Linked DNA regions of Homo sapiens. The protein of the gene in region 2 purifies or fractionates together with the protein of the main gene of each other region. This does not show direct contact. Each region holds a gene or a part of one and is shown on either strand. Other genes may lie near its edges.

Region 1 (3,706 bases), about 21 Mb from region 2:
AACTACAAATTCAGGGGTTCTGGGGTTTGATAATTTGCCAGAAGGACTCCCAGAACCCAGGAAAGTGCTGTGTTTACAATTAACGGTTTATGATAAAGGATGAAACTCAGTCACAGCCAGTGGAAGAGGTGCACAGGGTAAGGTATGGGGGAGAGGCACAGAGCTTCCATGCCCTCTCCACACATTGATGTGTTCAGCAACCCAGAGCTTTCCAAACCCCATCATGTAGGGGTTTTTATGGAGGTTTCATTACATAGACATGACTGATGAAATCTGTGGCAGTTGGTGATAGACTCAATTTCTGGTCTCCCTTCTCTCCTCTGAGTGGCTGAAAGCACCAACCATGTGGTCAAGTGCTTTGTCTTTCTGGTGACCAGCGCATCCCCCATCCTGAAGCTATCTAGGGGTCTACCATGAGTCACCACATTAGCATAAACTCAGGTGTGGTGGAAAGGGGCTTGTAATCAATAAAAAAGATACCCATCGCTTGGGAAATTCCAAGGGTCTTAGGAGCTCTGTGCCAGGAAGTGTGACATTTATATCACAGGGAGACAGTAGGCAGATAAACATATAATGTCAGGAAGTCTTGCGTGCTGTGAGGAAAACTAAACCAGGCTAAGGGGTTTGGGGGAGATGAGGAGTACTTTGGGGTGGTCGGGGAAGGCCTCTGAGGCAGTGGCACTTCAGCAGAGCCCTTAATATGAGACAGGAGCCATGCTAGTATCTAGGGAGAATGTTCCAGGCAAGGGGAACAGCACATCCAGAGCAGCTGGGGCAGGAGTATGCTCTGTGTGTCCTGATGCTGAAAGGAGGTCACTGTGGCTGGAATGTCGTGGGCCAGGAGAGGGTGTCATGGTGGGAAGCCATTGGAGGTTTTGAGTTAGCAGCTGGATTCTAGGGTCATTCTGGATGTCCGTATCACTGCTGTCTTGGGACCCTGTGTGGAAACACTGGCATTGTCTTCAGCCCTTCCTCCGTATGTAGTCAGTAAGTGTAGATAAGTAGTTCAGATAATTCTTAAGAACTATTGTAACCATAATAGATTTGTTGCCCAATGCACACAGCAAGTCAATATGCTGAGACACCACCAGGTTGCAGCAGAGAAAGAAGTTTAACCGTAGGGTCACCAAAGGAGGAGATGGGAGGAATCCTGAAATCATTTCCACGAGGAGTTTGGGGTTAGGGTTTTAAGGGTTTTGGAGTGGGCTGGAGTGAGGGTCATTGGTTGGGTGAAGAGTGCAGGGTGAAGTCACGGACAGGGAGATGAAGAAGCTGTGTTCTCATGCAGATCCCGTTTCTCTGGGGATCTTCAAACTGGTTGCTGGAATTAGGGATCTGAAAAGACATTTTAAGCAATCCTTAAACAAAAACCTTATGATTCTAATGTCAGAGATCTTGCCTATAGGAACAATGGGGGTGCATATCAATTCTTACATAGTCTTATGACCCAAATGTCAGAAATCCTATCTATAGGGACAGTGGGGATGCAAATGGTCAGTACCTAGTGTTCAGGAACTTTTAGCAACAAGGATATGGGCCAAAGTGCCCCCTAATTAGTGCTTAATTATAATTGTATTTCTGTCCAGAACTTGGCAGATACTTCTTGTCAACCCTTTGGAGGCAGTTTCACTCTCATATGCCTTACTCTGTGATTCTGTTTTTCTTTTTTGGTTAAGAGCAGAAACCCCTTCAGAAACTGAAAGCCAAAAATTGCCCTTCCTAGAAAAATGTATGTATAAATTTTGTGTGTGGTTTCCTGAATTTTATAGTTCTGTACTTATTTAGTGATTTGCCCGGCCACTCTTGACTTTAGAACATCACTTTTAAGTTCTCTGAGTTTTTGTTGCAAGGATAAAATGATATTATACATGTGAAACACCAGTAGAAAGCTTGGCACATACTTATCTTTGCGGTTACCTAAAACAGGCCAGTCATTTCAGGGTCCCCAGACTTAGTTCTCTAATGAACTCTCTTCAATCACAGAATTCCCCCTCCTTACCTTATACTCTTGCTTCAGGATGCCTCCTATCTTAGTCTGTTTTGTGATGATGCAACAGAATACTACAGATTGGGTAATTATAATGAACAGAAATTGTTTTGGCTCATGTTTCTGGAGGCTGGGAAGTCCAGTATCAAGGCACCAGCATCTGACAAGGGTCATCCCATCGTGGAAAGTGGGAGGACAAGAGCAAGCAAGAGAGGGTCAAACTTGCTTTTATAACAAACTCACTCTTTTTTTTTTTTTTTTTGAGACGGAGTCTTGCTCTGTTGCCCAGGCTGGAGTGCAGTGGCACGATCTCGGCTCATTGCAACCTCTGCTTCCTGGGTTCAAGTGATTCTCCTGCCTCAGCCTCCTGAGTAGCTGGGACTACAGGCATATGCCACCAGGCCCAGCTAATTTTTGTATTTTTAGTAGAGATGGGGTTTCACCATGTTGGCCAAGCTGGTCTTGAACTCCTGACCTTGTGATCTGCCCACCTTGGCCTCCCAAAGTGCTGGGATTACAGACGTGAGCCACCACATCCGGCCAACAGACTCACTCTTAAAAACGAACCCATCCCCGAGATCCATTAGTCCATTCATGGGGATGGAGCCCTCATGATCTAATTACCTCTTATTAGGCCTTACCTACCAACACTTGCTGCATTGGGGATTAAGTTTCTGTATCAGTCCATTTTCATACTGCTATGAAGAAATACATGAGACTGGTTAGTTTATAAAGAAAAAGAGGTTTAATGGACTCACAGTTCCACATGGCTGGGGAGGTTTCACAATCATGGCGGAAGGTGAAGGAGGAACAAAGGCATGTCTTACATGGCATCAGGCAAGAGTGTGTGTCCAGGGAAACTGCCCTTTATAAAACCATCAGCTCTCGTGAGACTTAATTCATCATAGGAGCGGCATGGGAAAGACCTGCCCCCATAATTCAATTACCTCCCACCCGGTCCTTCCCACAACACATGGGGATTATGGGAGCTACAAATCAAGATGAGATTTGGACACAGCCAAACCATACCAGTTTCCAACATATGAATTTTGGGGGACACATTTAAATCAGAGGACCTCCTCAAATGCCTCTCTTAGTACTGTTCTCATCTGTAACATCCAGCCTGGCCTTCATTTTTATGTAGTTGTGTGTGCTGATTTTGCATGTGCTTATATCAGCAGCCCCCTAGGGAAGGTCTAGGGAGCCTTGCTTTTCTATGATAAATCATTGGTTGGTTTTAATGGTTTAAATAGTCTTAGTTGGTTCATCCTGTGGAACTACACATGTATTCCTTTGATCCTAGTACTGATCTCTGGGCTTAATGTACATTGGTTTAAAAATACATTAATGAAATGACTCAAATTTGGGTGTTTTCAATACCTTCCCTTAGTCCTGAGAAGAGGACTGTTTAAGAGCAAGATATGAGTTCAGAAATTCCATTTTTCATTTTCTGATTCTATTTATTTCCCCCATTTCCACCCCTTAATAGCTTCTACCCTCCTCATCTTTGGAAGTTGTCCCAGAAGCAGCCCAGAACAATCCAGGGGAGGAAGTCACAGAAACTGCAGGTGAAGGGTCAGAATCCATCATTAAGGAAGAAACAGAAGAGAACAGTCACTGTGATGCTAACACAGAGATGCAGCAGATTCTCACACGAGTTCGGCAGAACTTTGGTAAAATCAACGTGGTGCCTCAGTTTTCTGGGGATGACCTGGTTCC
Region 2 (5,196 bases):
GTTCTGAGAGAAATACTTGCTGCACTCTCAGGTGTCTTGTCTCTTCCTCAGGTTCCCCATGTTCACTTGTAGACCATGGACCTCCAAAGCCACAAACATAAGGCATAGGTTTTACTCTAAGCCTTTCGGTAGGTGCCAGTCACAGAGAGTTCAAGTCCGTAACAGTAAAAAATACATTATTAAAATATTAGATATGACCATAAAGGAATGTAAAAGGGAGAGTTTATTCTGAGGACCAGGTGATGCACCATGCTGGTGGGATCAGAGGAGACTTTATAAAGGAGAGGTAGACATCCAGGCTGGGTTGTGCAGGATCAATGGGAGTTTGCAAGGGGAGGGGACATTGCAGGCAGGTGGAACAGCATGCTGAGTTCTGGGGGCTAGTGATAGCAAAACAGAGACAGAAGGTAAAAGAAGGTATGGGTGAGGCATGCTCAGAAGCTTTGACTAGGTCTGCAAGCAGTTGAAGGGTTTAAAGTAGGGAAGTGACATGATCAGATTTATGTTTAATTTTTTTTCCAACTCTTTATTTCATAAAATAGAGTAAGTGTTCCTAAGTTTAGGTTTAGAAGTTGATATGAGTGGCTCTGTGAAAGACAGATTACAGGTCAGAAAACTGGTTGGAGGCTATGCAAAGAACCCAGCTGAACAATGAGGTTTAGAACTGTCATGGCGGCCATGGGGCTAGAAGGGAGATGGACCTGCAGAGGGTATCAGGTCCCCAAACCCCAAAATCTAGTCCACATTTGTTATGTTGAAGGACACAGTCATGTCCCTGGCTAGAGAAAGGACACTGCCCTTAGCTCCAAAAATAAAGACTAAGTTTTTATTTGAGAGAGATTTTTTCCTCTTTTTATATACATTTTTTTCCTCTAGGAAATAGACAGACGGTTGGAAAAAAAACTGAAGATCACACAAAAAGAGAGGTAAGGCTGCTGTCTGGTCTGAGGGCTCATGCTCTCTGTGGTTTGAGAGCCGGGCAGTCAGTGGTGTTCTCCAGCTGGCCATTAGGATTAGCAGGTCCTAGCAGGTCAGGCTCTGGGGCAGCAAACCCTTCCCTCCAAATTGGAGACCAGGACGTGGTGGCTTGAGGCTTTAGGGTTGAGGCTGGGGTGTTGCACCTGCCTCTGACCTTCGTGGGCTCCCTGTGTGAGGTCATCTGATGCAATGTGAGGAAGTGACAAGTTGGAAGACTTGAGTTTTAGGCCTGGCAGTGCCCCAGTTGCTCTGAGGTCTGGGGCAAGTCATTTCCCAGATCTGGACATCAGTTTCTTTCTCTGTGGCATGAGGAGTGTGGGCAGATGATTTCTCTGGGTCCCCAGTGACTTGGTGGTCTAGGGTATTATGAGGGTATCCTGGAAGAAAACATTCTAGGAAATTCTTGAAAAAACCTTTAAAAATAGCTTTGTTTTCCACCTAGACGACAGAGGAGGGTGTTTCCAGAGTAGGTGAAAGTTGACTTCGGCTTTCTGCTTTTGGGCTTAGGGAACCTGTTGGTTTTCCATAGGTACAAGGGACAGGAAGGAGGATAGGGCCCCTCTGGATTTGCTCACGGGGCTGCACAGTCATTCCCCAGGAAACTCTGGGTGCTCTGCCCGCCCGCTAGTTTTCCTGGCTCCCTGCCTCTTTGATCAGATTGCTGGCTCCTTGTCTGTCTGCTCATCTCAGCAACCACGCTAACCCTGGGTTACAGTCCTCGTTCCATACCATTTGTGTCCTACCCGAGACTTGTTTCCATCCACCCTGGCTCAGTTCCTCCAATCCCGACTCCTCCTGACAGCCAAGGCTCTGGAAGCAGGCTTGTTTGGTTCTGAAGAGAAGCTGGTTGACTGCTCTGGGTAGGGTCCTGGTGGCTGTTGTCGGGTGGTCATTCCTGCCTGGGTTCCTGTCTCCTCCTGTGGCTTTTGTTTCTTTCCCTTCCTGTGTTGTTGTCCCTCTTTGTTTTTTGTCATTCCACCTCTCCCTGTGGACACATCGCCTTGATGTACGCGTCCACCAGCCTTGGACAATGCTTTTCTTTTGAGCATTGCCAAGCACTGTTTCTAGGAGCATCCTTCACTCCAGCCCCGCCGCTGTCCAAAAGACCAGGGAGCCCTGGCAAGGGAGGTTTCTCTGTTCAGAAGCTTTTTGAAGAGGATTCAGTTGTCTGGTGTAGCTTGTCTCTGGGAGGCACAGGTCACTCTCACTAGAAGGTGGCTTGGTAAATCTTGATGCCAGGCAGGGATGGCGTAGTGGGCTCCTTTGTAGTGTTTGTCTGGTTTGAGCATGTGATGGAAGATTTGGCTGAGTGAACACTGCTGACCCCCAAGTTCAAAGGCTCCCACCCCACCAGCCAGTCCTACTCTGATCTGCGTAGAGAAGCTGGGATCTTAACTGACGTCATTCAATTCTGGACATAAACTGTTTTGCTGCAGGGCCAAATAGTGGTTGATGTGGCTGTGGTGAACATGGGGATAGAAGTGCCAGAATGAGGTGGCGTTCCAGCCCCTGTGGCCAGGGGTTAGGGCTGAGGAGCAGTTCCTGTGGCCTGTCAGAGCTGGTCGCAAGCTTACTTTTTTGGGACACCCTTCTTGAGGAGTGGAAATTTTGCTGTCTGGTCAGAGGCCAGAGAATCATGCATGGGTAGAATTAGGGAGGGAGAGGAAAGTGATGAGAGGTGGGTGTGGGACATGGACAGGGCCTCCTTAGTCAGGAGCATGATTTGTGAAGCTGTGTTTGCTCTTTGTCAGCAGGAAATCCAAATCTCCTCCCAAAGTGCCCATTGTGATTCAGGACGATAGCCTTCCCGCGGGGCCCCCTCCACAGATCCGCATCCTCAAGAGGCCCACCAGCAACGGTGTGGTCAGCAGCCCCAACTCCACCAGCAGGCCCACCCTTCCAGTCAAGTCCCTAGCACAGCGAGAGGCCGAGTACGCCGAGGCCCGGAAGCGGATCCTGGGCAGCGCCAGCCCCGAGGAGGAGCAGGAGAAACCCATCCTCGACAGGTGAGTGTGGCTGGCAGGGCCGGCCAGTGATGGCTGTCCCAGTCCACCCGGGAAGAGGAGAGCATCCTGGCTGCGTGTAGAGTAGTGAGAAGCAAGCAGAGTCAGGGTAGGAACCATGCAGCTCCACTTGCTGATCCCAGCCTGCTGGCACTAGTTCACTGTGCCGCATTGGCTGGAGAGGGCTCTGAAAGCCTTGCCAGGGAGGAGGTGGCAGTTTGCTGGCATGCTCCCTCTGCGGTTGGTAGTCACCGGGGGCACTGTTGTGTAGAGAGTGAAGGCACAGATGAGCTTGTGTCAAAATCTGCCTCTTACCTCTTCTTTAGAACGACTTGACCTCTCTGGGCCTTAGTTTTCTCATCTGAAAAAATGGGATAATAATAGTACCAACCTTATCAAGGTGTTGTGCAATTCAGTGAGTAAATGAGCATAGGATGTGGAGAGCCTGGGCTGGCAGAGTGGAAAGTACCCCAGATAAGTGCTTTGATGATATTTTCTGGGTCTCCAGTATGCCCACTGTGATGTTTTTGTGAATTTTCTAAATTCCTTTTTACTCTTAACATTTTTTTCTCTGCAGTATTAAAGGTTGCATCATATAAGTTTATCACTTTCGAATCAAACAGTATTCATTAAGATGGCCTCCTTCTAACTTTGAGGGGCTGCTATGGTTTGGTATTCTGGGACTTGAAGAAAAAATCTGCGTACCTTCTTTCTAGCTCTTCATAATTTTGAAGAGATACCTGTTCTTTTTGTTGTTTCTCCTCTAAGTCTTCACCTTTCCAGGGTGGAAAAATAGTCATATGAGTCAACCGTTAACCGCAGAGTTTGGAGAGGAGTGGGAGGGAAGAATTGGGGGGCGGGGGATGTGTCCCTCTGCTGAGCTCTTGATTCCAGTTCTTTACTTTGGCCTAACACTCTGGAGATTCCAAATGGTTCTGCGGAGCATGTGCTATCCATGGTCACTGCCTCTGGGCAGAGTGGGCCCTCAAGCACTCCCCCTGCCTACAAGTGCATGATGGCAGCTGAGCAGGGGGAAAGGATGCTGTAGCTGCTAGAGGTGAATGTGCACCACCGACCCTGCCTGCTCACAGGGGCCTCTCAACTTGGAGGTGCCCTGAGTCAGCTTCCCAAAGAAGCAGGCTTGCGGAGCCAGAGTGACGTGGGCCCAGCTATATGGACAGTTGATTTTAAGATGGGGGACATCTAGGCCAGGTGCAGTAATCCCAGTACTTTGAGAGGCCGAGGTGGACGGATCACTTGAGGTCAGGAGTTCAAGACCAGCCTGGCCGACATGGTGAAACCCCATCTCTACTAAAATTACAAAAATTAGCTGGGTGTGGTAGCATATGCCTGTAGTCCCAGCTACTCGGTAGGCTGAGGTAGGAGGATCACTTGAACTCAGGAGGTGGGGGTTGCAGTGAGCGGAGATCGTGCCACTGCACTCCAATCTAGGTGACAGAATGAGACTCCGTCTCAAAAATAAATAAAAAATAAAGAAATGATGGGGGACATCTATTATATCCTTCTTCAGGCCTTCCTCTGCTTTTCTTCCTTTCAGGCCAACCAGGATCTCCCAACCCGAAGACAGCAGGCAGCCCAATAATGTGATCAGACAGCCTTTGGGTCCTGATGGGTCTCAAGGCTTCAAACAGCGCAGATAAATGCAGGCAAGAAAAGATGCCGCCGTTGCTGCCGTCACCGCCTCCTGGGTCGTCCGCCACGGGTTGCACTGCCGTGGCAGACAGCTGGACTTGAGCAGAGGGAACGACCTGACTTACTTGCACTGTGATCCCCCTTGCTCCGCCCACTGTGACCTTGAACCCCATGCACTGTGACCTCCCCCCTTCTCCCCCTTCCCACTGTGATTGGCACATCGACAAGGGCTGTCCCAAGTCAATGGAAAGGGAAAGGGTGGGGGTTAGGGGAAGGTTGGGGGGACCCAGCAAGGACTCAGAGAGTCAGACAGTGCCACTTGGCCACTTGGGGTAAAGCCAGTGCCAGCAATAACAGTTTATCATGCTCATTAATTTGGGATTTCAAAACACAAATGAAAACTCACACCCACCCACCCCCAAGTGCATGTCTCCATCACTTAAAAAGTAAGTTCCATTTGAAAATATCCTTTCTTTTTTTTTTCTTCCTATTTTTGTTTGTTTATACAAATATCTGATTTGCAAGAAAAAGTGCATGGGAGGGGTTTTAGTGGTTTAATGAA

Evidence for each region. The genes of interacting proteins can lie anywhere in the genome.
Region 1: the proteins of SZRD1 (region 2) and GNL2 purify together in Homo sapiens (co-immunoprecipitation; one large-scale study listed by IntAct). This does not show direct contact.

What each region holds. Positions count from the first base shown.
Region 1 is NC_000001.11:37,569,073-37,572,778, reverse strand, and holds part of GNL2 (nucleolar GTP-binding protein 2), read left to right. Parts: intron 1-3,476; coding exon 3,477-3,706. UniProt on the Homo sapiens protein: GTPase that associates with pre-60S ribosomal subunits in the nucleolus and is required for their nuclear export and maturation.
Region 2 is NC_000001.11:16,390,499-16,395,694, forward strand, and holds part of SZRD1 (SUZ RNA-binding domain-containing), read left to right. Parts: intron 1-876; coding exon 877-926; intron 927-2,729; coding exon 2,730-2,984; intron 2,985-4,539; coding exon 4,540-4,642; 3' UTR 4,643-5,196.